7 linked regions of the Homo sapiens genome follow. The protein of the gene in region 1 purifies or fractionates together with the protein of each later gene. This does not show direct contact. Each region holds a gene or a part of one and is shown in the gene's direction. Other genes may lie near its edges.

Region 1 (4,506 bases):
CGCTCAGGCCGGGAGGGGCGCGCCGGGAGGCCGGGGAGGGGGCGGGACCCCCACTCACCGTGAAGTCCTGGAAGCCGGCGAGGGAGAAGGTGCCTTCTTCGTCCAGCAGGAGCCCGGTCAGGTCCATCGCGCCGCCAGTCGCCGCCCTGCGAAGGTGAACGGAAGGAAACGAGTTGTAGGGGGCTCGCGGAGCTGTCCTTGCCCGCCTGTCCACCTGCCAGCCTGCCTCCCCGGGGCGGGCCGCCGTCCTCGCCCTCGCCCTCGCAGCTCCCTCCCCCCGGCGGCGGAAGGCGGGGCCCGGGCTGAACTGGGCGCCTCTTCCTGTTCCGCCCCGGGCTTGGCGCGGCGCGCGGGGGCCCTAGGCCCGGGAAGGGAGGTGTCAAGCGTCCGTGCGACGCTCACCTCGCGGAGCAGAAAGGAGATGCGGCTGCGAGGCGCGTACTCCGCCTGTGCCGCGTCCGCCCGGCGTTTACAAGCCGCGGGGGTGCCGCCTGCAAGTCAGCGCCTGGCACTTCCTGCCGCCCATCTGGCCCAGCCTCCCGCCCCGACCCGCGGGCAGGAACCGGACTCGAACTCCTGGTCTCACGGAACGTGGCCAAGCCCCAGGCGCCTCTGAGAAATGGGGACAATTCGTAGGGGGGACCACGCCGCACTGAGGATGAACAAGCCAGGCGTAGCAATGGAGAAGTTAATGTGAATAAGACGAAACGCACAACAGGAAGTTGTTCCCAGTTGCTTTTTAGGAGAGATATTATACATACTCAGCAATGCATATGAAAAGCGTCTGAAAGGACACACAGGAAATTTAGCAGTGGGTGAACTATGAAAAGGAAGAGAAACTCAGGGTGTTTTTTTTTTTTACTGTAATTTGAACTTTTAAACCTAAGGCTACTGAGGAAATTCTGTGATCTTAAGCGAATGTAAGGCCTCAAAACGTGTCAACACGTCCACCCAAAAGTAAACTGCATCTACCCAAGGTTTTGTGTTGAAACCCACCTCCCGCCTCCGATCTCATGCTTGAGTAGGCCGAGGTGGGAAGAAGCTCCGATATGTGGAAGTGGGAAAGTTTAAGGAGATAGGAAAGAAACAACTTTTCTGAGTAGATGTTGTTTTCGAGTCTGTCGAGTCAAGCGCTGGTGTGTGTTTGTTTACCCACTGAGGGGAGGGAACTGGGAGGACCAGTGCGTTGAGGGTTGGTTGAGTAATGGGACGGCCACCGCCCTTCCCGAGCGAGCAGAAGCAGACCCTACCGGGGATACTGGGAATCTGGAAGCCCACTTCCTGCCCCACACGGGGATACCGGGGCAGCACCACACTCCCTAGCCGCCCTGCCTACTGTGGGATAAGAAAACGGGCTCGACTGCCTGGACCTAGACCCGGACTCGGAACCCGGGGTACTTCGTCAACCAGAAAACGAACCTGTGTAGGCGCAGTGTCAGCGGCAGCCGCCGGGGCGCATGCGCGGCCCGCCCTATCCGGGGGGGGGGGGGTTAGGCCGCGTCACGTGACGGGCTCAGCGCTCCGCAGTCACGTGACGCTCGTCCGCAACCTCTGCTGTCCTCCGCGGCGCCCCCTTCCGCCTGACGCGCCCCCGGCGGCGGCCGCGCAGCCCTGGCTCCTCGCGGGCTCGGGCGGCGGCTGCGGCGGGGCTATGGCGAGCGGCGGTGGCGGGGGTAACACTGGCGCGGGTGGGGGGCCGGGGATGGGCCTGAGCCTGGGCCTGGGTCTGGGTCTGAGCCTAGGCATGAGTGAGGCCACCAGTGAGGCAGAGGAGGAGGCGGCCACGGCCGAGGCGGTGGGACGCCTGGCCACGACGCTGTGGCTGCGGCTCCGCGGCTGGGAGGCGGTGCTGGCGGCGGCGCAGCGGTTGCTGGTGTGGGAGAAGCCGCTGCACAGCCTGGTCACGGCGGCCGCGCTCAACGGCCTCTTCTGGTAACGGCCGCGGAGGAGGGGGCGGGGCCGGGATGAGCGGGGGAGGGAGGGGTCGAGAGCACCATTCCCCTTTCTGGGTTATCACTTGGCCTGGGGGCATGACCCATCCCCAGTTTTTGCAGGCTGACATCCGCTTGAATTGCCCATTTTTTTCTATCTCTGAGTCGTGAGTCGCGAGTTAGGCCTGGAGGTGCCATTACCCCATCAGTAGGCGCCTTTCCACCTTCTGAGATGGATGCATGAGCCTGTCTCACCCACTCACTGCTGAGGTGCCTGTCTCTCCCTAAGGTTGCTGTCTTCCTCGTCCCTCCGGCCCTTCTTCCTACTCAGCGTCTCACTTTTGGCCTATTTTCTGCTGGATCTCTGGCAGCCTCGCTTTCTCCCTGACGTTTCAGGTGAGTGTTTCTTCATTCAGTAAGCACCCATTGGGTACTTGCTTGGTGCCTGATTCCGCTGGGTGGGGTTAAGTGGCGAGGGGAACGTACAGCAGGCCACCTGCCTCCCAGGCATGGCCCACTTCCTTTTTGTACGGAATTCCCTAAAATGAGAATTGCCCCTTTCCCAAACTAATACTACTGTAGGTGCAGTGGTTAAGATGGTGAAGTCTGCAGCCATATTACCTGGGTTCCATTCTCTGTTCTGCCATTTACCATTGCTGTGACCTTGTAAAAGTAGCTCAATTTCTGTTTGTCTCAATTTCCTTATCTGTAAAACACAGATGATAGAACTTACTTCATAGAGAGGTGAGGAGAGGATTAATGAGTTAATACACATGCTATACTTATGATAGTGTTTCACATATAAGCCTTATAAATAGAACGTCAGTGTTGTTTTTCTTGTTATCCATATAATTTACTTAGTAGGTGACAGGCTGTATGTGAGTTGCTTGGGAGATAAGCATGAGTAAAATCTAGTTCTTATGTTGGAGAAGGGTAATGTCTAAAGGAGACAGACGCAAACAAAAACATGTAACAGCTCCCCCATTGGCATCTGAAGAAGGTGCTCTGGGGCTGCAGAGGAGGGACAACTATTTCTGCCTTGGGGAGTGTCTCCCAGGGCCCCTACCACTCAATAATTTGCCCCCCTCCTCTCTCTCTAGCATCATCCCCAGAGGAGCCACACTCTGACAGGTGAGTACAGGCCACCTCTTGAAGACAAATGCCCACATCCTGTCCTGCTTGCTGGTGCCAGTGTCACCATGGAGCAGGGCAGTGCCCCAGCATTGTGAATGAACTGGTAACAAGCCATGGGTTTTTCATGGTCCTAGGCTCCTGTGTAGGTGTTTGCGTGCCTGCTCCTTTTGGGGCAGAGGGTTGGGTCCTCCTGGCTTTGCTTCTAAGACCAGGACAGCCTCCTTTTGAGAGGTGGGGTCATTTGCTTTTTTAGACTAAAGATATCTTTGGCATTCTCAGAGGGATTTAAGTGTCTAGGAAGCTGGTATCTGAGGCCTCCAGGGGTCATGTCATGTCTCCCCAGTGAGGGTGCGGGGTCAGGCGCCCGGCCGCACCTGCTGAGTGTGCCCGAGTTGTGCAGATACCTGGCTGAGAGCTGGCTCACCTTCCAGATTCACCTGCAGGAGCTGCTGCAGTACAAGAGGCAGAATCCAGCTCAGGTAACCTCCCCTACATCATACAACAGTTCACTACACTGAAGGGGAATAGAGGTGGCGGGGGATGGGAGTGGAGTGATATAAACTCCCCGCTTGGAGACCCTGAAAGAAGAGGCCTGGGCGCCTTCTTGAGGCAACATTCACAGCTAATCCCTGGTGCAGGAGGCAGTCTCACCTCAGGAAATAAGCTTTTGATAGCCTGACACTTTCTCCTGCCAAGGCAGACCAGTGTGAATTACAGGTGGTGGGCATTATGTATTGCCAGCTTCCTGAATTGGTGGTCTTGAGCATCCTCTTAACCAAACTGGACCACCCCATTCCTTGAGTACATACCCATCCTTCTACCAGCTGAGCAGTAGTTTCTTACCCAGCCGAGCGGGGCGCATATCTCAGCGTGATGTTCTTAGACTTTTGCTCTTCTCTGCAGTTCTGCGTTCGAGTCTGCTCTGGCTGTGCTGTGTTGGCTGTGTTGGGACACTATGTTCCAGGGATTATGATTTCCTACATTGTCTGTGAGTAGGGTCTGTCCCTGCCCTATTTAAAGCCCTCTCCTTTCTTCTTTCCTTGGACTGACCCAGAGGGAAGACTATGCTCTCTCTGCTCAGTTTCTGATTTGTGGAGATCTCCAGGGATGCTTTAGTATTAGTAACTGTGGAAGACTTACCTGGGGAGGAGGGCAGTGGATGTGGCAAGAAGAGGTTGGCACAGCCTTGGGAAAGGACCTTGCCTACCTTCAGCACTTCAGTTTAGGGACCAGTTGAATGGGGGCTCTTAGGAAATTGGCGTAGGGAGCTCTTAGTTCACGTTCTTAACCCATAGTGTTGAGTATCCTGCTGTGGCCCCTGGTGGTTTATCATGAGCTGATCCAGAGGATGTACACTCGCCTGGAGCCCCTGCTCATGCAGCTGGACTACAGCATGAAGGCAGAAGCCAATGCCCTGCATCACAAACACGACAAGAGGAGT
Region 2 (4,712 bases), on another chromosome or scaffold:
AGAAAGAAAAGCAAACAACTTGTTTTAAGAAGGACATTTCAGCCAGGCACGGTGGCTCACACCTGTAATCCCAGAACCTTGGGAGGCCGAGCTGGGTGGATCACTTGAGGTCAGGAGTTCAAAACTAGCCTGGCCAACATGGTGAAACCCCGTTTCTACTAAAACTACAAAAATTAGCTGGGTATGGTGGTGCAGGCCTGTAGTCCCAGCTACTCAGGAGGCTGAAGCAGGAGAATCACCTGAACCCGGGAGGTGGAGGTTGCACCGAGCCGAGATCGTGCCACTGCATTCCAGCCTGGGTGACAGAGTGAGACTCTTGTCTCAAAAAAAAAAAAAAAGTTTGAGACCAGACTGACCAACATGGCAAAACCCCATCTCTACTAAAGATACAAAAAATTAGCTGGGCATAGTGGTGCACGCGTGTAATCCCAGCTACTCGGGAGGCTGAGGCAGGAGAATCGTGTGAACCCCAGAGGCAAAGGTTGCAGTGAGCTGAAATAGCACCATTGCACTCCAGCCTGGGCGACAAGAGCAAAACTGTCTCAAAAAAAAAAAAAAAAAAAAAAAAAAAAAAAAAAAAAAAAAAAGAAGAACATTTCTTTCTTTCAGAAAAGTGTAAACACTAATTCATATTTGATATTAAAAGTTTTTTTGGGGGGTCGGAGTGACAGTTTTGTGTGTGTGTGAAGCATAATGTATACGTATTAAAAAGGGAATGCTTGTCCTTTAAAGACACATACTGAAATATTTACTGGTGAAAACACGTGATGGTATTTACTTCAGAATAACGCTGGGCAGCGCGTGCGAGGTAGGTGCAGAAATAGAGGAAACAAGATTGCCCCATGAGTCGCGTAACTGCTGAGGTCGGAGAGCGACTCTACGCGGCTTCATCGGGTTATTCCACTTCTGTGTATCTTGAAATTTTCTACAATAAAAATGTCTTAAAATTGTGCGTCAAAATGATAACACGAATATAAAAATGCAATTAAAAAGTCAGGAGGCAATACTGTCGCGCAAAACCGTGACGCTAGTTGTGTGCGGGCGGTAGGATGAGTCATTTCCTCCTTCCTTTCTATATTTTCTGTCTATATACTTTTAATATTACTTTTATAATGAGAAATACTAAAACTCGGGGTGAGAGGGGGGGACACTCGTGTTTTTGCCTTCCCCGTCCCCGAGGGGACTGTTCTCATCTATTCTCTTCCCGACGTCCTCCAGCTTTTTGCTAGGCTTCCTGCCATCTTTACCAAGTTGAGATTATCCGGGTTCTGGCATTAACAGAGTTTGAGGAAAGCGGGTCAAGTCTACCGCGCCCTAACCTTGGACCCCGCCTGCAGGCTGACTTTCGAGTCACACGCCAGAGCACGGCGACCCCTAAGGTCGCAGCCCGGCTTCGCAAGGCACCTCCTTCTAACGCGTCGGTCGAACTCGCGCGCCCGCGAGCAGCCGGACTACATCTCCCAGGAAGCTGTGCGCCGTCCAGCTGTCCTGCCCTTGGTCGCGAAGGACTACATTACCCGGTGATATCTTGCGGGAGGCGGTTGCCAGACCTCAAGCGCACAACCATTGGTCCAGCGTCTGGCGGGGAGCTGCACGGTGATTGGCCCAGGAGCCCGCCAGTTTCGTCCGAGCTCAGTAGAGTTTTGCTGTTAAGACTGCGCGAGGAGCTAGAGAGAGCGGAGAGCGCTGAGCCGGGCCGCACCCGCCGAGCCGTGTGAGTAACCTCTACCTCCGTCCTTCTCGCCGCCCTCTCGGGGACCAGCACCCTCGCTCCTCAGGGTGGTCGGGAGGGAGCACACGCACCCGGGCGCTCACGAGAGGGCGGGGACTGTGTACACACGTGTCACACCAGACCAGAGAAGCATCTCCAGGGACACCGGCGGCCGAGCCCCGCGCACGCCCTTGAGCACCTGAGCTCCAGGGCGTCCCCTCGGACTCAAGGAGAAAAAACACACCCCGAGGCACACGTGGACACCTAGGTACCCACACGGGGACCTCTGCAGATTTGCTCAGCTGAGCCCTTGGGCACATGGGCACCCGAACACCAGGAAGAGCCTGGTATGCTCCGGTCTCCTGACAGCGATCCAGGACACCTGCCACTCGGGCTTGCTCCTCCTTTCTGCCCAGATGGGCGGGAAACACGCTGCTCAGTGTGACCTGAGCGGTCCCTGGGTAACCCCTGGAGAGGTTTTGCCTCTCAGTCGCTTGCCGCGTGTTTAAACTTCCTCATGGGCGCCTGGGGAGGAGTTCCAGGGTGGGTGAGAGGAGAAAAGGAATTGATGTCTGGGGTGGAGGCTGCCATCCTGTAGGTAGTATCTCCCCTCCTCCCCCACCCCCACCCCCACTACTACAAGTATTCAAGAACTAGGGTAATTCTGAAGGCTAGTTTTAGGGATTTTTTTTTTTTTTTTTTGCCATAACAAATTCAAACAGTATAGAATTATCGACAGGTCTACCTTCCTTTTTCCCTTCTCAGCCCTTCTCCCTGTGATCAGTTACCAACTACCTGTTGATGTGTGTGGTTACAGACTTCTTTCTATGCTTTGTACAACTCTACAGACCGTATGTAGGTATTACTGTTTTTGTTTTTTGTTTTTACAAAAAAGGAAAAAAGTACATCTCCTGGAAGGGATGCTTTTTAGCTGAGCTCTGGTGGATGAGAGGAGCTAGCCTTGAAAAAGTGAGTAGGGGCTGAGAGTGGGGCTGTATTTCAGACGTAGGGAACTGGAGGAGTAGAGGCAAGGCAATTGATAGGAGTGCTCCCCGAGTTTTCCAGGAACTGGGCAGAAGCAGTCAGACCACTCTGGTTAAATGAGGGAAGGGGAAGAGTGGTCCAGAGTGAGGCTGAAGAGGTCAGTAGGTCTGAGTCAGGGGAGCCCAGGAGCGTCATTTTCTTTTTTGTTTTGTTTTGTTTTTTTGTTTTTGAGACGGAGTCTCACTCTGTAGCCCAGGCTGGAGTGCAATGGCGTGATTTCAGCTCACTGCAACCTCTGCCTCCCAGGCTCACGTGATTCTCCCTCCTCAGCCTCCCAAGTAACTGGGATTACAGGCGCCCACCACGACACCCAGATAATTTTTGTATTTTTATTAGAGACAGGGTTTCACCATGTTGGCCAGACTGGTCTTGAACTCCTGACCTCAGGCGATCCACCCGCCTCGGCCTCCCAAAGTGCTGGGATTACAGGCGTGAGCCACGGTGCCTGGCCAGGAGCATCATTTGCTAGCGTAGCATGGCCCCACTGTGCCGGGGTGGTCTGAGGTGTGTGCAGGAGGGGAAAGGGAAAGGTGAAGGGGCTCAGGGCCTCAGGGCTCTTCCTTTGGACAGTGGGGGATTGTTAAAGAATCCCAATCCCTGTTCTCCAGCCCTGCACGTCCTTCAGTCCCTCAGCGTTACACTTGAGTGGGCTCACTCAGTGAGCAGGAGTTTGCTATAAAGTTGCCAGATGTCTTGGAAAACCAGTTGATCTCTGGGACCAACAATTGCCTATCAAGCCTGTTCATTCGATTCTCAAATATTATTAAGCACTTACCATGATGGGCTCTATTCCAGGAACCGGAAATTTACGAGTGAACAAATGAGACCAAGGTCGTGTTTCCACGGGCTTACATTCTAGTCAGGGAGAGAGACAAGAAACAAATGTACTGTATAAATAACCCATGGCGTGCCGGGCGCTGTGGCTCATGCATGTAATCTCAGCAATTCAGGAGGCTGAGGCAGGAGAATCACTTGAGGCCAGGAGTTCGAGACCAGCCAGGGCAACATTGAGACCTTATCTCTACAAAAATAAAAAACTTAGCCAGGCCTGCACCTGTTAAGTGACAGCTAATTGGGAGGCTGAGGCAAGAGAATCACTTGAGCCCAGGAGTTCAAGGCTATGGTGAGTTATGATGGCACCACTGCATTCCAGCCTGGGCAACAGAGTGAGACCCTGTCTCTAAAAAAGTAAACAAATATGCCATAGTAATAAGTACTGTAAAGAGGAATAAAACAAGTGCTATTTTATTTTATTTTTAAATTTTTGTATTTTTTGTAGAGTTGGGGTTTTGCAGTGTTGCCCAGGCTGGTCTTGAACTCCTGAGCTCAAGCAATCCACCCACCTCGGCCTCCGAAAGTGCTGGGATACAGGCATGAACCGCTGCGCCCAGTCCAAAAGTGAGTGCTATTTTAGACAGTCTAGTCAGGGAGGGCTGCTCTGAGGAGGTGATATTTGAGCAGAGACCATAAGAAACTTGCCTGGTGTTTATTCCGTATCTCTTGCATTTAGCTTGATACTGATGGACATTGTGTGGGCCAGAGGCAGGGATGGTTGGCTATGACCCCAAACCAGATGGCAGGAATAACACCAAGTTCCAGGTGGCAGTGGCTGGGTCTGTGTCTGGACTTGTTACTCGGGCGCTGATCAGTCCCTTCGACGTCATCAAGATCCGTTTCCAGGTACTCTTCCCCTTTTTCCATGCAATGGACTGGAGGACAAGTTCAGTCTTTCTTGCAAAAGCAGTTCCTAAAACTTGGAATTCTATCCAGATGAAGGGCTTGCCTTTTCTGAAAGTTCCCCTTCACATTCCAGCCCACCCCACTGTCCTGACCTTTTTTATTTTGATTCCTAGCTTCAGCATGAGCGCCTGTCTCGCAGTGACCCCAGCGCAAAGTACCATGGCATCCTCCAGGCCTCTAGGCAGATTCTGCAGGAGGAGGGTCCGACAGCTTTCTG
Region 3 (4,016 bases), on another chromosome or scaffold:
AAGATCTGGGGTGTCGGGGAGAAGGGGGATAGAGAAGGAGAAGTGGGAAGAGGTGTCCATAATAGCTTAGGTGCAATTCTGCTTATTTTACATTTTACCCCCGCTGACTGCCACTTTTTCTTCAGCCCTCACACATTGTTTGTGCAGGGACCTCATAGGACCAGGAATTGTCTATAGAGGTGGGAATTTGTCTCACCCTGAAAGGGATACCTCTAGCATGGTAATAGTCTTCTAGGATTTGTTATCATATGGAAAGATGTAAAGGGAGGGATTCTGCTGCTGCTGCTGCTGCTGCATGCAGTTGCCATTTCATTTAAATGACTTATTTATAATTGATGACACTTTTCTGGCTTCCTGTTAATTCCTCCCTCAAAGATCAATAAACCAGAACCAGGCATGGTGGCATGCACTTGTGGTCCTGTAACCACCCAACAGGTTCACCTTGCCTGCTGTCTAGATAGAGCCAATTATCAAGACAGGGGAATTGCAAAGGAGAAAGAGTAATTTATGCAGAGCCAGCTGTGCAGGAGACCAGAGTTTTATTATTACTCAAATCAGTCTCCCCGAACATTCGAGGATCAGAGCTTTTAAGGATAATTTGGCCGGTAGGGGCTTAGGAAGTGGAGAGTGCTGGTTGGTCAGGTTGGAGATGGAATCACAGGGAGTGGAAGTGAGGTTTTCTTGCTGTCTTCTGTTCCTGGATGGGATGGCAGAACTGGTTGGGCCAGATTACCGGTCTGGGTGGTCTCAAATGATCCACCCAGTTCAGGGTCTGCAAGATATCTCAAGCACTGATCTTAGGTTTTACAACAGTGATGTTATCCCCAGGAACAATTTGGGGAGGTTCAGACTCTTGGAGCCAGAGGCTGCATTATCCCTAAACCGTAATCTCTAATGTTGTAGCTAATTTGTTAGTCCTGCAAAGGTAGACTTGTCCCCAGGCAAGAAGGGGGTCTTTTCAGAAAAGGGCTATTATCATTTTTGTTTCAGAGTCAAACCATGAACTGAATTTCTTCCCAAAGTTAGTTCAGCCTACACCCAGGAATGAAGAAGGACAGCTTAAAGGTTAGAAGCAAGATGGAGTCAATGAGGTCTGATCTCTTTCACTGTCATAATTTCCTCAGTTATAATTTTTGCAAAGGCGGTTTCAGTCCCAGCTACTTGGGAGGCTGAGACAGGAGGATTAATGGAGCCCAGGAGTTTGAGGTTGCAGAGAGCTATGATCACGCCACTGCACTCCAGCCTGGGTGACAGAGTGAGACCCTGTCTCTAAATAAATAAATAAGTAAATAAATAAATACATAAATAAAATCAAGATGGTGTGCAATTAGAATTGAGCGATTTTGTTTCCAAACCTCAAGAAAGCTTGGTCTTGCTCTGTCCCAGGTGGCTGGATAAATTGGGCCTGTCAGCCCGAATGGGAATAGAAGTGGTGATGAGGCAAGTATTCTTTGGAGCAGGAAACTACCATTTAGTGGATGAAAACTTCGATCCTTTACCTGTAAGTGACCATTATTTTCCTAATTCTAGTGGAGTAGATTAAAGTCAACTCAGGACCTCTGGTGTTAACCTCCTATGAACAGTCAGTCCTCTCAGTAACTAGCCAAATCATGAGATGATGAATTAGAAGGAGCCTTAGATAGCATCCAATCTAACATTTTTTTGTGTGTTTGAAGAGAAGAAATCAAGAGCTAGGAATAACTTTTTAAAGGTAAGCCATTTGCAGTATAGTGTGGATTTTGTTTAAAAGGGGATAATTTGAAATTTTATGACTCATTATACAAGACAAAATAAGTTGGATTTTCAAATGTTTTACAAAGTAAATCAAAGTTATAATTGCCTACAGTACGCAAAGCTTCAAAACATTTTTTATGTTATGAAATTGTAATTTATTTAACCTTAAAATGAGCCAGTACCATGTGTTTGCTTAAAAATCTCATGCTAAGAATTTACTATGTTGTTAATAATCTTCAAGATATTTATGAATAAAGTCTTATTTCTAATCCTTCCTCCAACTGTATCTGGTGCTAAATCAGGAAATGTTTCTTCCCAAAAAGCCTCGTGGAAGATCTGTATGTCTAAATATATGTCAGGGATAATACAGATGTAGCCCTGAGAAGCATGACCTTGATTTTTATAGTCTAAAATGTCATTTGCAGATATATATTTTCTAAGAATAATTCCTAAAAGAATTATTTGAATGTTGTAGGAAAGCTAAGAAATTTTGCAAAGAGCGTACGTGAAAATATAAGCTAGGCTTTTGTGGTTTGTGGATAGACTTCCCAACAAAATTGCTTTTTATCTATAGTGATCCAAGCTTGTGGAACATATTAGTCATCTTTTTTTAGAAAATTCTTAGAAAAGTGATCTTGCAAAAATGGAATTTATCTTTCCCCAAGTATATTCTGTCATGTATAGAGTTAAACTAAGCATAGTAATTTCACCAGACAAACATTCAAAATCTACTCCTGACCTTTTTATCTCATCCAAATTTTCCCAGGGCCCAGACATAAACCTTTGCCTTACGAACTCTTTGTATATGCACTAAATATGCTTCTCCTTCAAGGTTCTCAGTCAGCTAGAAAAATGTGCAAGAGTAAATGGTACCCTTCTCACTTGTAGATCCAAGAGAATTAGACTTAAACTCACTCTACATGTCTGTGACTTTATTTTATTTGCATGACAGTCCTGTGAGGTGGCAAGGCAGGTATCTTGGATCCATTTTTTAGATAAGGAAGTTCAAATTGAGAAGAGGTTGCATGATTTACAGGAAGCCATACTGTAGTCCTATGTTACTCTTAAAAATCCCATTCAAATCCTGCTTCTGAGGCCTGCATACTTTCTACCCTACCAGTCATTGACCCATGCTTATGTCTCCTTTGAAAACATTGATTCCACTCTTGTCTCCAGTGAAAAAGTGGAATTTAAGCAGAGAAACAAAAGCCATTTGTCTTGTTAAGTCTACTTTCCCTCTACTTTCAAGAAGGAAAGTTGGGGTATGTGTTGAATGGTGATTTATTTATTTATTTATTATTTTAAAAATTGATACAAGGTCTTACTGTATTGTGCAGGCTGGTCTCAAACTCCTGGGCTCAAGTGATCATCCCACCTCAGCCTCCCAGTGTTGGGATTACAGCATGAACCATTGTGCCCACCACCGATCCGCAGTTTTTTAAGAAAAACTTTTACTATAGAAAATTTTAATCATATACAAAATACAGAGGAAAGTATATGAACCCACTTTAGGAGACTAGAATATGCCACCCCAAAATATGCCACTTTGGCATAAGGATTATTTCGAGCTAAAGGCAACTGGGAAGAAACACATAGAAGAAAAGTTCTCTGTCCTTCTCCATTTGCCTAAAAGCAGGACATGAATCTTAAAAGTCCCCCTCCTTCCCTTTCTACCAGGAAAAACAAGAGTTAATCACTGAAGATAACTTCAGACCCTTATCAGTGTAGAGATGGCACTAGAAGAATCTATATTACATACTCATTTATTTTCCTTCCCACAACTTGCCACCCCAGAGACTAAAAATCCTTTTCCTTTGTCATGTCTCTTGTCCAAAAATTTGCTCTATAAGCTGGAGTTCTAAGCCACCTCTTTGAGAATTACTTGTTCCCTGGTATTTTCTGTTAACATACATGTATTAATATACATGTTAACAAGCTTCTGTTTGTTTTCTCCTGTTTTCTGTCTTGTTACAGAGGTCCATCCCAACTAAGAACTAAAGAGTAGGAGGAAAATATAATTTCCTCCTGCATACTTTGATCTTGTTTAATCCGTAATCCTTCCCACTTTTCACCTCCTACCTATTAGATTACTTTGAAGCAAATTTCAGATATATTACTTTATCTATAAATATTTCAGTATGTGCTAGGTGTGGTGGCTCACACCTGTAATCCCAACACTTTGGGAAGCTGAGGCAGGAGGATCACTTGAGCCCAGGAGTTCAAGACCAGCTACGGCAACAAAAAATCAAAAACTTATCTGGGCATGGTGGCACATGCCTGTG
Region 4 (4,016 bases), on another chromosome or scaffold:
ATGAGTTTTGTAAACAGGTGTGCTGAACGTTAGAGCATTGGGCTTCTTCTTCTTTTTTTTTTAAATCTGACAAGTTATTTTTATGACAGCTCTTAAAATAAAATTTTACACACTTGGTAAGATATTTAAATAGTTTGCAAAATCTAAATGAAAACATGAAAGTTCATTTTCCACTGGTCACAGTGGTTCAGTCTCCTTCCAGAAAATGTTTCGGTGCTGGTGAGCAGTGCAGTGTATGTCTTTTTCTATTTTTTTTTTTTTAAAGATCACACAACATAAGTCTTCCTACATGTTGCATTTTAATCTTATAGTCTTGAGGACCTCTTTTCTATCAGCATGAGGACCATCCTTGTTTATTGGCTACACATGGTTTATTGGATTGATGTGTCATAATATTACCAATTGCTGAATATTTAAGTTGTTTTCCAATTTTTGTTCTGCTCCAACATATATCCCTATACCTGGACCCTTGTGTTCTTTTGTGAGAATACCAGTAGGGCAAATTCCAAGCAGATGCGCTGCAGAGTCAGAGATGTTGTGCTTTGTAAATTTTGACAGATATGGCTTAACCCTCCAAAAAGATCACATAAATTTATACTCCTCACAGCAGTGTGGAGGCCTTTTTTCCAAACTCTTACCAATGTCGTTACCATCTATTGCTATTTCCAATCTGAAACTTGCTGTCACTCACTATAACAAAGCCATTCTTTCTTCTTTTTGTGGTTTCTTTCTTTGGGAATTTTTCTCAGGTATTACATGATTAATATTCAGTCCTTTCATGCAAGCAAAAAGGAGGTGACATAAGCCCTGGGTATTAGAAATATATATATAACATATATATATATTTATATAAATATATATATAACATATATATATATTTATATAAATATATATATAACATATATATATAACATATATATATATATAACATATATAAAGTGTTTTCTAATTGATATCTCAAAAATCAACCTCCGTATTCCCCAAGCTGTAATAAAATAAAATTTGCTGAGTTGAGGTCTTCCAAACTCAACTGGGCATTTTTCATCTGGGGCAAAAAAAAGAAGAGTAATGCTCAGCTCCAAAGTGGCTGCTTTTCTGCTTGCTGGGTGAGTTTCTTATTTCAAAACAGAGGCTCACTGGGCTTCTTGATGGCACCTGGAGTCATGCCAAGCAGGAAGCAATCACTCCACAGAGCTGAAGATGTCAGAACCGTTCAGAAATACTGCCTGGGGAAAGTTCTTGGTTCTTCGGCTTAGGAGGAAAGGGGCAGAATACAACCTTTCTGAAGAAAATGCATCTTTCATTCACCTGAGAAATATTTCAAAATAACTATAAAAAGAAGTTAGAAGCAGGTGAATTGCCCCACAGAGGGGAATGTTTAAATGAATTGGGGCACAGCCCCTGTCGGAATGCCAGGTAGCTGATGCCTTCACCTGTCTGAAGAATGTTTAATGATGAAAGAAATGTTCATAATCCGTTAGGTGGGAAAAAGAAAATAAAAGTTCAAAGTGTACGAATGCATAGAAACACGGCTGGGAGGGAAAACAACAGAAAGTTAAAAGTGGTTATTTTAGGGTAGGAAGATTACGGGTGATTTTGATTTTCTCCTCTCGGCTTTTCTGTATTTGTCAAATTTCCTGCAAACACGTGTGTTACTTTTGTAACAAAAAAAGTCATTTTTCAGATAAATGTCAGTGTTTTCCTGGCCCCCAGAGGGCTGCAGTGAAATTCGGTGAATGCCCAGGTGGCTGGGTAAGGTCACGGCCGGAGGCTGGGGCTACTCATTTTTATTTCAGACACAGTCCTGTTCCAGGCTTTCTTGTGTCTTAGGGTCAATTGCCAAAATATTTTTTTCTCTTCTAAAAATTTATTGTGAGTCTTACTTGTATCTAATTTCAAGCTCACTGAAAAGTGAAAAATTGTGTAAAGAATGCTTATAAACCCTTCACCCAAACCATTGTTTTCATTTTGTCCTACTGGCTTTATTATTCTCCTTCTCTCTATATACATATGTTTTCATTAATTTTTTGCATTTTTTGCTTATTTTTTGAATCCTTTGAGAATATGCCAAAGACACTGTTCTCTTTTGCCCCTAAATACTTCAGGGGATAATTCCTAAGAACAGGGGCATTCTCCTGTAAAACCACAATGCAGTCAGCAAAATCAGGAAATTTAATCCGGATGCAGCACTATCATCGAATTCACAGCACCTATTGTAATGCCCTTAATTTCCCAGTAATGTCCTTCACAATTATTTTTTTTCCCCACTCCAGGACCAAATCCAGGTTCTTGCCTTGCATCTACTTGTCCTGTCTCTTTAGTCTCCTTCAACCTGAGATGGTTTCTCAGTTTTTCTTTGTCTCACTTGACCTTGATATTTGGCCAATTACTTTGCAGAAAGTCCTTCATTTTGCGTTTTTCTGATGCTTCCTCATTCTTTGATTTAGGTTGACCTTTTTTCCAGGAATAAAGATGATGTGTCTTCCCTCCTCAACTCTTTAGGACAAATGTGACACTGGTTTGCTTCCATGTTGGTGGTATGGGGTTTGAAGACCAACTTAGCTGGTCTTCAAATCCAACACCATCAACATGTAGTTACATGTCTCCAAGGAGCCCTGGCTGTTTAGTGGAGAAAGATATTTAGATTCCAAGATCAGGGCACTAGGTGCTAATTATGCTGTGTATCATTGCTTTTAGGTCCTCTCAGCAGACAGAGACAGGAAATATGTATGTGAAACACACATACATATACATATACAAATTGTCTATCTATCTATCTAATTTAATCTTAAAAACATATGGGTATAAAGACATGTGAACATGTATGTTCATTCCAACACTATTCACAATAGCAAAAACATGGAATCAACCTAAATGTTCATCAACGATAGACTGGATAAGGAAAATGTGGTACATATACATCATGGAATACTACACAGCCATAAAAAAGAACAAGATCCTGTCCTTTGAAGCAACATGGATGGAACTGGAGGCCATTATCCTAAGTGAATTAACACAGAACAGAAAAACAAATGTCACATGTTCTCATTTATAAATGGGAGCTAAATGTTGAGTACATATGGACACAAAAAAGGGAATAACAGACACTGGGACCCCCTTGAGGATGGAGGGAGGTAGGAGGGTGAGGATAAAAAAACTATCTACCAGTCAGGTACTATGCTTATTAACCTGGGTGGCGAAATAATCTATACACCAAGCCCCCATGACGCGCAATTTACCTATATGACAAACCTGCACATATACCCCTGAAGCTAAAATAAAAGGAAAAAACCCACAAAAACAAACCAAAACAAAAAAAACCCACGTGGGTCCGTAGTGATCTCTCAAGTTGGCTACAACAGCACAAGGCACTCCAGTGCACTTTTGAAAAGCTACCAGCAGAGAGGTTACCAGGAGGAAGTTCTGGTTGCTTTCCTCCTCAGGGCCTGCTGACAGCCGGAGATGACACTGAGAAGTGAAGTGCCAGAAGGTTTTCATCGTACTTTGCTTTTTCCTGCCTTACTTGAACAGCTTTATTGAGGTCCAATTATAATAAACTGCAAATATTAAAATGCAGAATGTAAGTTCTGACGTACATACACCCTTGCGAAGCTCTCACACAACCCAGACAGTGAACATATTTATCCCCCACTGAGGTTTCCTTTGTACCCACCTGCCCTCCTGCCCTCCCACACTCCCCTTCCCTCTCTCTCTCTCTCTTTTTTTTTTTGTTTGAGATGGAGTCTTGCTCTGTCACCCAGGCTGGAGTGCAGTGGTGCAATCTTGGCTCACTGCAACCTCTGCCTCCCAGGTTCAAGTGATCCTCCTGCCTCAGCCTCCTGAGTAGCTGAGACTACAGGCGCACACCACCACACCTGGCTAATTTTTTGTATTTTTATAGAAATGGGGTTTCACCATGTTGGCCAGACTGGTCTCGAACTCCCAACCTCAGGTGATCTACCCACCTTGGCCTCCCAAAGTGCTGGGATTATAGGCGTAAGCCACCATGCCCAGCC
Region 5 (4,016 bases), on another chromosome or scaffold:
TATGACAAAAGAATATTCCTTCCTGCGCACCAGTGTCCCTCGGGGGCCTAAGGTGGGCAGCCTGGGGCTTCCGGCACATCCTAGGGAGAAAAAAACTTCCAAATCAAGCAAAATCCGGTCTCTGGCCGATTACAGAACTGAAGATTCAAATGCGGGGAATTCTGGGGGAAATGTCCCGGCTCCCGATTCTACCAAGGGTTCCCTGAAGCAGAACAGAAGCAGTGCGGCGTCCGTTGTGTCTGAGATCAGCCTGTCCCCCGACACTGACGACCGTCTGGAGAACACCTCCCTGGCTGGAGACAGCGTGTCTGAGGTGGATGGAAATGACAGCGACAGCTCATCGTACAGCAGCGCCTCCACCCGAGGGACCTATGGCATTCTGTCGAAGACAGTGGGCACGCAGGACACCCCCTATATGGTCAACGGCCAGGAGATTCCTGCGGATACCCTGGGCCAGTTCCCCTCCATTAAGGACGTCCTCCAGGCCGCAGCCGCTGAGCACCAAGACCAGGGGCAGGAGGTCAACGGGGAGGTGCGGAGTCGGAGAGACAGCATCTGCAGCAGGTGGTGGGGACAGCAGAGGTGGGCGGGGTGGGTGGAGGTGGGTGGGGCCAACAGAGGGGGGTGTGGGGCGGGCAGAGGTGGGTGGGGCGGTAGCAGAGGTGGGTGGGGCCAACAGAGGGGGCGGGGTGGGCAGAGACGGGCAGGGCAGGCAGAGGGCCTGGCCTGAGATGTTGCTTCCCGGGCCCACGGCTCTCCGCACTGGAACAGGTGATACACAGCTTTTCTTCCTGATTCTATCCTTAGTCTTGACATGAACATTTAATTCATAACAAGTCTGCTGCTTTTTAATCAGTAGAATTAGATCAGCAATGGTCTGTGTTACTAAAATATCCAGTCTCCCGTTTACATAGACTTGTCACTAAGCTGCACGACGCTTGCATGTCTCATGTTTCTGTAACAGTTCCCACTGCGTGAGGTGCCAACTGTTGGCAGGAATGTTCATCCGTGCATCATGCAAGCCTCAGCTCTCTACTTAAATCTCTTACTTAATTTTAAAAAATTGGGAGAGAGCAGCAGGGGTGTGTGGAATTTGGAGAATGTGGAGGAGTGTGAAAGAAAATGAGGATGGCTCGCACAGGCCTGACCCGTGCCTTTGTCCCCAGCGTGTCCTTGGAGAGCTCTGCAGCAGAAACACAGGAGGAGATGCTGCAGGTGCTCAAAGAGAAAATGCGACTCGAAGGACAGCTGGAAGCCTTGTCACTGGAGGCGAGTCAGGTAACGGACGTTCGACTGACATCTCAGCGTGCGGCGAAGTCGGAAAGCATGTGTGGCTCCTCTGTTGGGTACGAGGTTTCACAGATGTGGTTGGGAATCAGCCGCCGCAGCATGTGTGGCAGCCGAGGGTTCTGCATCTTTACGTTTTTTGTCTACTTGTCAGCCTTAGAAAGAGTTGTGAGTTTTCTGCCTCATCGTGCATGGGCGTGTTTCTCCCTGCGTCTCTACCAGAATATTTGCTAGATGTTAGGTGTCTCACAGTCCATAAGAGTCAAATTCTCTTGGTGGGTTGCAGCTTTTTCTGGCATGGTGAACCTTTTTTCTTTGTAGTGATTTCTGCTTTTTCTGATACTAATTGTGCTGTATCAGAGAAAGCTGCACACGCTGGCTTGGTTAGCATGTGCCAGAAACATCATTTTCCATCCCTTATTTCAGCTCTCCTTTGTCATTTTGTCGTATGCACTTTATCCACAGTGAAGAGCTAGGTATTTATCTTCTGTCGGCAGTTGAGTAAATCTGTTCAGTGGGGTTCAGCTGTCCGCTTCTGGCGTGGGAGGGTGAGAATGCACCCAGGCCCTGAGGTGACACAGCTGAGGGAGCCTCCTGTGGCCTGCGAGGCCGCAGAGCAGGGCTGGAGCTGCTCACAGTGTCCGGAGCTTGCCTTGCTAAATGCACGCCTCATGTCGAAGATGGTTTTCTCATACAACATGGTCCTTGGACACAAACCAACCAGTTTGTGACACCTAAAGCTGTGTCTACAGAAGAGGTGATTTCGGCTGTTTTGAGGCTAATTCTGGTTGTACGGTCGTCACTTCTCCAGTGTTACAGCGTGAGCCTCCCTCCGTCGGATGCATTTCCCCTCCTCTGTGTAGCCACTCTCTCGAACGGTGGCTTGCTGTCACTGCACTTTGTCTTCTTATCCTCTTAGGATCACTGATTGGTCCTTCGGTTGCATCCACACCAAGATCGTGAGGGTTGTTTCAGGTGTGGTGGTTGCTGGCCCCTTGCTCTAGGGTCTCCTGGAGTTTGTGGAGTTCCTCAATTGCTTTGGGTGTTTGTTGTCTTGGTGATGTGTGAACTGGATCCCTGCCCCTGTAGGCCTCAGCGTGGGGGCAGGTGGTGGGGCGATTTCCTCTGGCGATTCTCTGCTGCTCCTGGGACCACACAGCACTGCGGTGGCCACTCAGGACTGTGCTGTGTCCCGTGGCTCTGGCTGGAGCCGCACTTAGGCAGCCGCCTTTCCCTGCCTGTGTTTTTTGCCCATTTCCCCCCAGATCTGAATCCGCTTTTAATCTCTCAGGGGTCCCTCTACACGTCTGGCATTCTGTGTGTGTGCGCATACATGTGCACCCGTGTACACGTTTGGTGTTTTGAACACGTTTCCAGTGTCCTCGCAGGAGACGGGTGCTTCCCCAGCCCTGCCCTAGCGCTGCCCTGTGCAGGTGCAGTTGGGCCCAAAACCAGTGCAGGCTCCCTGTGCGTCCTGGGCCTGTTTGGAAAGTCGCCTTTTTCTGTGACGGCTGTGCTGGGAGAGCGCCTGGGGGTCTCGGGGTCCTCTGTCAGGCCTTGGGAGAGCGCCTGGGGGTCTCGGGGTCCCCTGTCAGGCCTTGGGAGAGCGCCTGGGGGTCTCGGGGTCCCCTGTCAGGCCTTGGGAGAGCGCCTGGGGGTCTCGGGGTCCCCTGTCAGGCCTTGGGAGAGCGCCTGGGGGTCTCGGGGTCCCCTGTCAGGCCTTGGGAGAGCGCCTGGGGGTCTCGGGGTCCCCTGTCAGGCCTTGGGAGAGCGCCTGGGGGTCTCGGGGTCCCCTGTCAGGCCTTGGGAGAGCGCCTGGGGGTCTCGGGGTCCCCTGTCAGGCCTTGGGAGAGCGCCTGGGGGTCTCGGGGCAGGGTCCTCTGTCAGGCCTTGGGAGAGCGCCTGGGGGTCTTGGGGTCCCCTGTCAGGCCTTGGGAGAGCGCCTGGGGGTCTTGGGGTCCCCTGTCAGGCCTTGGGAGAGCGCCTGGGGGTCTTGGGGTCCTCTGTCAGGCCTTGGGAGAGCGCCTGGGGGTCTCGGGGTCCCCTGTCAGGCCCTGACTGACTCGCTGGTTGTGTTCCTGTTAATACACTGGATGGAAGTGACTCGTTTTCTTAAAATCATTGTGGTTGTTGGGATCTTTTCAGGCACTTAAAGAGAAGGCTGAGCTGCAGGCCCAGCTGGCCGCCCTCAGCACGAAGCTGCAGGCGCAGGTGGAGTGCAGCCACAGCAGCCAGCAGCGGCAGGATTCGCTGAGCTCGGAGGTGGACACCCTGAAGCAGTCGTGCTGGGACCTGGAGCGAGCCATGACTGACCTGCAGAACATGCTGGAGGCAAAAAATGCCAGCCTGGCGTCGTCCAACAACGACTTGCAGGTGGCCGAGGAGCAGTACCAGAGGCTTATGGCCAAGGTAGAGGACATGCAGAGGAGCATGCTCAGCAAGGACAACACAGGTGAGGCTGGCCCTGGCCACGCCCTCCCCTCCCTGACTGGTCCCTGCTGCTCCCTCCTCCTTCCTCGACTGGCCCCCGCCACGCCCTCCTCCTTCCCTGACTGGTCCTTGCTGCTCCCTCCTCCTTCCTCGACTGGTCCCCGCTGCTCCCTCCTTCCTCGACTGGTCCCCGCCACGCCCTCCTTCCCTGACTGGTCCTCGCCACGCCCTCCTCCCTGGTGCTGACAGCTCTGTCGGCATGTGACTGTGCCTGTGAGGGTTGCATTGGTTTATAGTTT
Region 6 (4,016 bases), on another chromosome or scaffold:
TATTTACACGTTTTTGAATGCTGCATTCTCACCTTGATGTTCCAAGGTTCCATCTTTTATCATTTCCTTTTTTTCCAAGGGCTTCCTTTAGCCATTCTTTGAGGGTAGGTTTGTTGATGATAAATTCTCTTTGTTTTCCTTCATCTGAGAATTTCCTCTTCATTCCTGAATACCATTTTTCTTGATTACAGGAGTCTGGATTGACAGTTCTTTTCTTTCGATATTTGAAACATGTTGTGGCATTTCTTTCTGGCCTTTAAGATTTCTGACAAGAAATCTGCTTGCATTTGAATAGTTTTTCCTCTTTAAGTAAGGTGTTGTTTGTTTTTTTTCTGGCTGCATTTAAGATATTTTCTTTGTCTTTTGTTTTCAGCATTTTAATAATTACATATCTTGGTGTGTATTTTTTTTTTTTTTTTTTTTGAGATAGAGTCTCTCTCTGTTGCCAGGCTGGAGCGCAGTGGCGCTATCTCAGCTCACTGCAACCTCCGCCTCCTGGGTTCAAGCAATTTTCGTGCCTCAGCCTCCCGAGTAGCTGGGACTACAGGCACCCGCCACCACGCCCAGCTAATTTTTGTATTTTTAGTAGAGATGGGGTTTCACCATGTTGGCCAGGATGGTCTCAATCTCTTGACCTCGTGATCCGCCTGCCTCGGCCTCCCAAAGTGCTGGGATTACAGGCGTGAGCCACCGCGCCCGGCAATGTTTTGTTATGTTTGCGGTTTACTCAGTTTCTTGAAACTGTAGCTCTTTAGCCAGATTTGGGAAGTTTTCAGCTATTATTTATTTAAGTACTTTTTCAGCCCTATCCTCCTTCACCTGTTTTTATTGGACAACATTGAACAAATGTTAGATCTTTTGTGGTAGTCCTGAAGGTCCCGGAGGGTCATTTGTTTTCAGTCTGCTTTCTCTCTCTTCTGATTGTAATCTCTCTATAACTTCTATTCTGTAGAGTTCACTGATTCTTTCCTCACTTCCTTCCATTCTGCTGTTGATCCCATCAACAGCATCAGTAGCCTTTTATTTTGGTTATATTATTTTTCAGTTTTTAAAATTTCCCTTTGGTCTTTATATCTTTTATTTCTTTGCTGAAATTTCTGTTTCTTACCTGAGGTTTCCTGTTTTTTTCAGTTGTTCAAGTGCATTCATAACTACTTGTTGAAGCATTTTATCATTACTGCTTTAAGGTCTTTGTCAGATAATTCTACCGTCTGTGTCATCTGGGTGTTGGCACCTATTGATTATCTTTTTTCGTTCAGTTTGAAATCTTCCCAGTTCTTGATATAATGAATGATTTTTATAAGAATTGGAGCCAGGCATTTTTTTTAAATCATGTTTAAACCTCCTGTTTGACTGTCTTTGTCTGATGCTGCTCTGGCAGGGGAAGAGGGTCTGCTGCCTTGTTAGTGCCAGGTGGGGATAGAAGTCCAGGCTCCCCCTTCAGCCTCTGTCCACATCTGGGGATTGGGAAGGGGCTCCTCCATCCTGCTGGGTGAGGGTGGGAGTTGTGGCTCCCTCCTGAGTCTCTACTGATCCTGCAGGGGAAAGCTAAGGGGTAGGGCCTCGTTATTGGTTGGTGGGGATAAAAATCCCAGCTCCCTACTTGGCCTTCTCTTATACCATCCTGGCTGGGGTGCTGGGGCACTCGTTGTAGCTGTAGGTAGAAGTCTATGCTTTCCACTTAGCCTTTGCTGGTGGGACCACAGGTTTATTCCTGTGGTGTTTACTAGAATAGAGCAGTTATTATATAAAAGTTTCCTGTCTTGCTAGGCTGCCATTTTCTAGCTGGAGCAGGCTTGTGAGGGGTGGGGGTGGTATGGTTTGGCTGTGTCCCCAACCACATCTCACCCTGAATTGTAATAATCTCCACGTGTCAAGGGTGGTGCCAGGTGGAGATAATTGAATCATGGGGTCAGTTCCCCCATATTATTCTCATGGTAGTGAATAAATCTCACAAGATCTGATGGTTTTATAAATGGGAGTTCCCTGCACAAGCTCTCTTGCCTGCTGCCATGTAAGATGTGACTTTGCCCCTCATTTGCCTTCCACCATGATTGTGAGGCCTCTCCATCCATGTGGAATTGTGAGTCAATTAAACCTCTTTCCTTTATAAATTACCCAATCTCAGGTATTATTAGCAGCATGAGAAGAGACTAATATTGGGAGGTGTTCTTATTTGTTTTGGTTTTGGTCTACATCAGTTGGTGTTTCCAGTTGGCTGATTTCTTGAACTGTCAGACTGGGATATATAAAGCAAAAATAAATTCCAGGGAACTTACTACCCTGCCTTCCGCAGGCCCAAGGTCCCTAGCCAGTCTGCTTCTTCACTACACCTTTCAGAGTTTTATGCTTGTTTTCTGTAGCATGTCTAGGGTTTTTATTTGTACTTAGCAAGAGGAATAAGGGAAAGTAAGTATACTCCCATCAGAAACAGAAATCTCTGAATTTTCTGATTATAAAATGGGGATAATACCTACTCCATAGAATCATTATAAGCATTAAATGAGATACTGTAATTTATTTATTTATTTTTATTATTATTTTTTTGAGACAGTCTCGCTCTGTTGCCAAGGCTGTAGTGCAGTGGCGCGATCTCGGCTTACTACAACCTCCGCCTCCCGGGTTCAAGCAATTCCCCCTGCCTCAGCCTCCCAAGTAGCTAGGATTACAGGTGCCCGCCACTACACCCAGCTAATTTTTGTATTATTTATTAGAGACAGGTTTTCACCATGTTGGCCAGGCTGGTCTTGATCTTCTGACCTCAGGTGATCTGCCTGCCTCAGCCTCCCAAAGTGCTGGGATTACAGGCGTGAGATACTGTAATTTATGTAAAGTGTTTACTACTACTCTGGTATTTGTAAGTGCCTAAGAAAAATAACTTATTTTTTAAATTTTGTACAATTATGTATTTTGAAGATTTTTTTAAAGGTATAAGTTAAACCAGATAGTTATGTTTTTGCTAATAGTTCTTATATAAAGTATGTTTAAGGTCTTTCACCTTCCCAAGATATGGCTATTCTTTGAAATTGGATTTTTTTCACCAAGGGAAAGAGAAAAGAGAGTAAGTTCCGTATTAATTTCACACGTTTTCTGCCATCCCTGTACACAGTTAAATACCCTTTGTGAAACATCATTTCCATTCTTAAAAACAGCGCTTCTGTGTTGAAGCATTATTCAGTGTAGTCCTAAGTTTTTTCCTTTAGCATTGATGGCATATTTAAATGGGTGCAATTAAACAAGCAGACACATGTACAATCCATGTGTTGTTGCTCTTTGTTAAGTTGCATCAGTAATGCCTCATTTCCCAGAATGGACACTGGTGTGAGTCTCAGGCAGTATAGAGGCCAGATCCCAAGTTGACTTTCTCATTTATCAAGTGAATCAGGTAACAATGACAGGCTACTTTGGGGCTTTGAATATAAAGGTGAATAAGTCTGCTCAAAAAGTAGTTTGGAAGTCAGCAGATGTTTAGATATCCATAACTCCTCAGCAAAAGATACGTCCAGTGAGGTTTAGGGTTATGTGAATTTAGGCTGTGTTCCTCATTCAAACTCTTAGAACATTGCCTCTGCATGTACTGAAATGTCTGCTCTTCGGATTTGCTGTATTTTTTGTTTCTAGGGATTCACCTACGCTCTTACCAGCTGGAGGGAGTAAACTGGCTCGCCCAGCGCTTCCATTGTCAGAATGGCTGTATCCTGGGAGATGAGATGGGCCTGGGGAAGACCTGCCAGGTGTGTTACTATGCGACGAGTACTGCTCACCGCCACTGCGATACTTCCTTATAACTCATTCTGGAGCTGAGAGCTCTGGAGCTAAAACAAAGCTCAGTTTCACAAATGTCCCTGGGATCCAGGCTAACTGGCTCTTGCACCGGGAAAGGGCCTTCCCTGTACAGTCTTCTCTGCCTCAGTCATTGCAGTTCCCCTACTGACTTTATTCAGGGCCAGCAAATGCTACTTGTCCTTTCTTTGGATGTTCACATAGCTCTGCTTTAAGCTCTCTAAAAAGATATC
Region 7 (3,904 bases), on another chromosome or scaffold:
TTCAGTAGTGCCATTCTCACTATGTCAGTTCTTTTCAACTCAATGTGAAATGCTCAAAACCTGAAAGTAAACCCAGTTTAATTCTCTTTATTTTCTTTCCTCCTCCCTCCCTCCCTCCCTTCCTTTCTTCCTTCCTTTCTTTTCTTCTTTCCTTTCTGTCTTTCCCCCTTCCCTCTTTCCTTTCTTCTCTTCTTTCCTTCTTTTCCTTCCTAAATGATATAGAAATTTTAGGTAAAAGCAAGGATTTGAGAAAAATTGGAATAATGGTAAAGGTGCCTTGTTCCACAAAATACATACCTGATTAAGGACCTTTTTTTGCCAGATACTGAGCTAAGTGTCATGAGGGATGCAAATTAATTACAGTTTTTACCTTCAAGAACTTTAGGATGTAGATGATAGTCTACAAGTGATAAAATGAAGAGCATAGGATTTGAAGTCAGAGAGCCTGGGTTCAGGCACCAAAGTTTCTAGCCTCAGTTGCTTCCTTTGTATAATGAAGTTATTGAGCCTTACCTTCCTATCTCTTAGATTACCATGAAAATTAGACAGGTAGCCTATATGAAAGTACTTAATAAAATTCAGTGAAATTCTATATAACTGTGTGACTTTTAAAGATAGCTTTTATTATTTTATGGCATATTATAACTTGTCAATTTTTCATGAACTGAGCAGGAAATTGAATAACTAGAAATCAAAGGCATTTAAAATATAGCCAAGCCTTTATGTTTTCTCGGAAGTTCATAAGTATTATAGCCATAGGACATTGAGAGGAATTGAGAGCATTTGGGTTTCACCCTTCCTCTTCTTTTGGAGGTATAGACAAGTAGCAAAATAATCATCACGCCAGTGATCATGTGAAGGAGGGGAACACAACTAGAATGTGAGGGGCCAGGATAGCTAAGAAATAGTAATACAGAAAATGGAAACTCAGAAAGCTTTCTGAAAATAAGCCACTAAATAAAAACAGAAGGCTTTGTAACTGCTGTTGTGTCTTCAGAGGTTAGGATATATCGGCAGTTTTTATAGCTCTTTTTCCCCTCTACTAAATTAAAAACAAATAAAAAGCCTTAAGCTGGAGATTTCAAGCTGATTAGGAAATCAGGCTACAGGAAACAATACTGACTGACCTATGGAACAGTCTTGCATTTAGCACAGTTTAACCTACTGGTAGCTGAGATCCTTGGTCATGGAGTTACGGAAGCATTCTGATTTGTGGGATGCTTATAGATTTAGCTCCCTTAAAATAATGAGGAAGTCTGTATTTTACTTTTCATAAAAGACAGTACTATATTCACTCTTAGTTACTGACTTTTTTTCCCCCTTCTTTCCCATAGTACTACCTGCATATGGATGGCAGAGGCAACTATGAATTCAAACAGATAACAGAAGATACAGTTGAGTTTGGCTCTTAGAGAAATCTGGAGAACTATACCTGCTTCAGTGAAATAATTACAGAATATACTTAGAAAGGCAAAGTACATTGTAAAATAAAGTTGAGCTTAGTTTTTTTTAAAAAAAAAAACAAAGCAACAAATTAACTAGATACAGAATAATGGAGAACAAGTTGTTAAAACATTTAATATTATATAGGATATTGCTAATTGTGTATATGTTGGTTTAATTAATAATATGTACTAAGAATGTCCTTATTCTTGTGGTTAAAAACCTGCCTAAATTAAATTGGGCTTCAATCACTGTAACCTGATTCATCCTGGGATGTAAACCATTCGAAGTCAGCTAATTGGACTTTTATGGCTCTATCTTTTCCTTCAGTGAAGAACCCTATTTAAAACTGGGTCATCATTTGTCCTGTTCTAGCAAGATAGTCTTCAGTTTCATTTTCCTGTGCCCTGTGGTAGTTGGAAACAAATCATAATGTATTATTTAAATGTTTAACATCATTGCATAACAGCGTTTATTATACAGTGGCAGATTTCTTTAGCTGCCACAGTAATACTCATTCCTTGTGTGTGTCTTGGAGTGCATTTGACTCCAGGAAAAGCCATTTTGGTTTTCCTTAACTAAATGATAAATGTACCCCTCTCAGTCTGCAGTATTGAGTTGTTTAAAGTATATGTGCAGTCTTGCTTACAAGGAGGGGTTACCATGTATCACACCTAATCTTCCCAATGTTTGGGATATTAAAACACAAAGTCCTTAACATGCCAGGCTCAAGGTCTTATAAGAGTTCTAGATTTTTAAGAGAATTAGACAAATTTGTGTGTGTTAGAAGCCCATTCATTAGAAGTGTGGTGGTTATTTGGTATTAAACTCCAAATGAGCCATAGGAAGGCACTACATGAAATAATGCACTGAGTATGCAATGCTATCACTGTCTTTGACTGTGATTTTATGTTTAAAAAGTATGTTCTAAAATTATTATATATACATGGGTGAATTATGTTTCCGAGGCACTGTTTTATCTCTGTGAATCTTGAATAACTTTTTTATATTTGGGTTATGATGTCAAACGATCCTAAGCGAAGATGATTTCAGTTCATCAAATCATCATTAATGACTTTATGTATTATTTGCACAGGGAGAATTGAAACTGAGTATAATCAATAAGCTAGATACGAAATCAGTTTCTCAAACTGAGCTTCAGAAAGGGGCATTTTGTACTCTTGTTTTTGCATAACTGGTTTTGTTTTTTTGCAGAATTAACTATAACAATCACTGGCTACCGAAGTAAACTGATGTACTGAATTCCATAATACATAACATTCAATTTTTACCACTTCTGTTTAGCGAACTTGTATACTTATTTTCTGTTCAGATTAAAAAAAAAAAAAAAAAACTCAGATATCCTATACAACCTTTGCTTGTTCTTTTTATTCTGGTATCTAAATACTGAGAAGTTCATTTATAATTCAGCCTTGACTTGAAAACATAGATAGTTTAATCTTGACTTGAAAAACACAAAAATAAATTCAGAAAATGCTTTTAGCACAGTGTCTCTTTTTTAAAGTTTTGCCAAGTGTGGTTTTTAATTGAATGAATTTCTCTTTTAGAAAAGTTCAGTAAAATCTGTGTACCTGACAAATGCTACCAAACAGCCAGGAGACCTTAAAAGATACTATTCGTCTTGGAAAAGATTTTAAGGCATGGGAAAGTTTCAGATTTTCAGATTTCTGGGTTACCTTAAACCTACTCGTAGAAGTATTCTCCTAGCTGCCTTATAATTGCTTTTGTTATGATTCTTGCCATCAAAACAACAACAACAACAATTTGGGCTTTTTTTCTTAATTATTTTCTTTTTTATGTAACAAATATTACAGTGCCTCACCATTTGAGGCACAGAGGAAGATCCTTCTGGAGAATCACATTAACATAATAGTGGTTCTTCGAAGACCCACAGTAAAGAAATCCATTGGTTCAAAAACATGATTGACCACGGAACATCTTTTTCTACATAATTCCTATTAACACCTTCCAGAAACTGCAGTGGGAAATGGTAGTTTAATCCGAAGAATAAACCAAAGAATAAGAACTTTCATCCATGAGCACCACGCTGCATGCCAAGACATATCACCGTGTTCTCATAATAAGTTTTTACTTTTTATATAATGAGAAAATAAGTATGAAACAGCAATGGTAGTTTGTTTTGCATTAATAGAATAAAATATATCTAGCATTTGTCTCTTTCTCCCCTTTCTGAATGATTAACATTTGGCTTAAAACCGGTGATATGATAGCATCTGGCATTACTTTATGTAAAGTTTTAACTTTTAAATTTGGTGTTTAAAATCATAATTTGTGCTGAGAAGCAGAATGAATTTTCTTCTAACAGATGGACTTTGACATTGTTAGCTGCAGGAAGCTGTCTCTTTTTTTTTAAACCTACATTAGTGATTTTTCCTTTGTGAAGAATTGGAATGTTCTGACCATTTCCATATACATAACA

What was found.
Region 2: the proteins of RETREG2 (region 1) and SLC25A19 purify together in Homo sapiens (affinity purification with mass spectrometry; one large-scale study listed by BioGRID and IntAct). This does not show direct contact.
Region 3: the proteins of RETREG2 (region 1) and HPSE purify together in Homo sapiens (affinity purification with mass spectrometry; one large-scale study listed by BioGRID and IntAct). This does not show direct contact.
Region 4: the proteins of RETREG2 (region 1) and CCR9 purify together in Homo sapiens (co-immunoprecipitation; one large-scale study listed by IntAct). This does not show direct contact.
Region 5: the proteins of RETREG2 (region 1) and GOLGA3 purify together in Homo sapiens (affinity purification with mass spectrometry; one large-scale study listed by BioGRID and IntAct). This does not show direct contact.
Region 6: the proteins of RETREG2 (region 1) and CHD1L purify together in Homo sapiens (affinity purification with mass spectrometry; one large-scale study listed by BioGRID and IntAct). This does not show direct contact.
Region 7: the proteins of RETREG2 (region 1) and ABCD3 purify together in Homo sapiens (affinity purification with mass spectrometry; one large-scale study listed by BioGRID and IntAct). This does not show direct contact.

Annotation. Positions count from the first base shown.
Region 1 is NC_000002.12:219,176,702-219,181,207, forward strand, and holds the start of RETREG2 (reticulophagy regulator 2), read left to right. Parts: upstream 1-1,573; 5' UTR 1,574-1,651; coding exon 1,652-1,932; intron 1,933-2,007; exon of another isoform or gene 2,008-2,220; coding exon 2,221-2,327; intron 2,328-3,031; coding exon 3,032-3,062; intron 3,063-3,408; coding exon 3,409-3,544; intron 3,545-3,968; coding exon 3,969-4,053; intron 4,054-4,360; coding exon 4,361-4,504; intron 4,505-4,506. Other genes in the region: protein CNPPD1, read right to left, coding at 59-127. UniProt on the Homo sapiens protein: Endoplasmic reticulum (ER)-anchored autophagy regulator which exists in an inactive state under basal conditions but is activated following cellular stress.
Region 2 is NC_000017.11:75,286,356-75,291,067, reverse strand, and holds the start of SLC25A19 (mitochondrial thiamine pyrophosphate carrier), read left to right. Parts: upstream 1-1,634; 5' UTR 1,635-1,714; exon of another isoform or gene 1,715-1,979; intron 1,980-2,476; 5' UTR 2,477-2,566; exon of another isoform or gene 2,567-4,153; intron 4,154-4,265; 5' UTR 4,266-4,303; coding exon 4,304-4,435; intron 4,436-4,608; coding exon 4,609-4,712. UniProt on the Homo sapiens protein: Mitochondrial transporter mediating uptake of thiamine diphosphate into mitochondria. It is not clear if the antiporter activity is affected by the membrane potential or by the proton electrochemical gradient.
Region 3 is NC_000004.12:83,303,688-83,307,703, reverse strand, and holds part of HPSE (heparanase isoform 1 preproprotein), read left to right. Parts: intron 1-1,386; coding exon 1,387-1,501; intron 1,502-4,016. UniProt on the Homo sapiens protein: Endoglycosidase that cleaves heparan sulfate proteoglycans (HSPGs) into heparan sulfate side chains and core proteoglycans. Participates in extracellular matrix (ECM) degradation and remodeling.
Region 4 is NC_000003.12:45,889,439-45,893,454, forward strand, and holds part of CCR9 (C-C chemokine receptor type 9), read left to right. Parts: intron 1-4,016.
Region 5 is NC_000012.12:132,804,439-132,808,454, reverse strand, and holds part of GOLGA3 (golgin subfamily A member 3), read left to right. Parts: coding exon 1-564; intron 565-1,166; coding exon 1,167-1,278; intron 1,279-3,432; coding exon 3,433-3,739; intron 3,740-4,016. UniProt on the Homo sapiens protein: Golgi auto-antigen; probably involved in maintaining Golgi structure.
Region 6 is NC_000001.11:147,249,002-147,253,017, forward strand, and holds part of CHD1L (chromodomain-helicase-DNA-binding protein 1-like), read left to right. Parts: intron 1-3,621; coding exon 3,622-3,734; intron 3,735-4,016. UniProt on the Homo sapiens protein: ATP-dependent chromatin remodeler that mediates chromatin-remodeling following DNA damage.
Region 7 is NC_000001.11:94,515,718-94,519,621, forward strand, and holds the end of ABCD3 (ATP-binding cassette sub-family D member 3), read left to right. Parts: intron 1-1,334; coding exon 1,335-1,412; 3' UTR 1,413-2,946; downstream 2,947-3,904. UniProt on the Homo sapiens protein: Broad substrate specificity ATP-dependent transporter of the ATP-binding cassette (ABC) family that catalyzes the transport of long-chain fatty acids (LCFA)-CoA, dicarboxylic acids-CoA, long-branched-chain fatty acids-CoA and bile acids from the cytosol to the peroxisome lumen for beta-oxydation.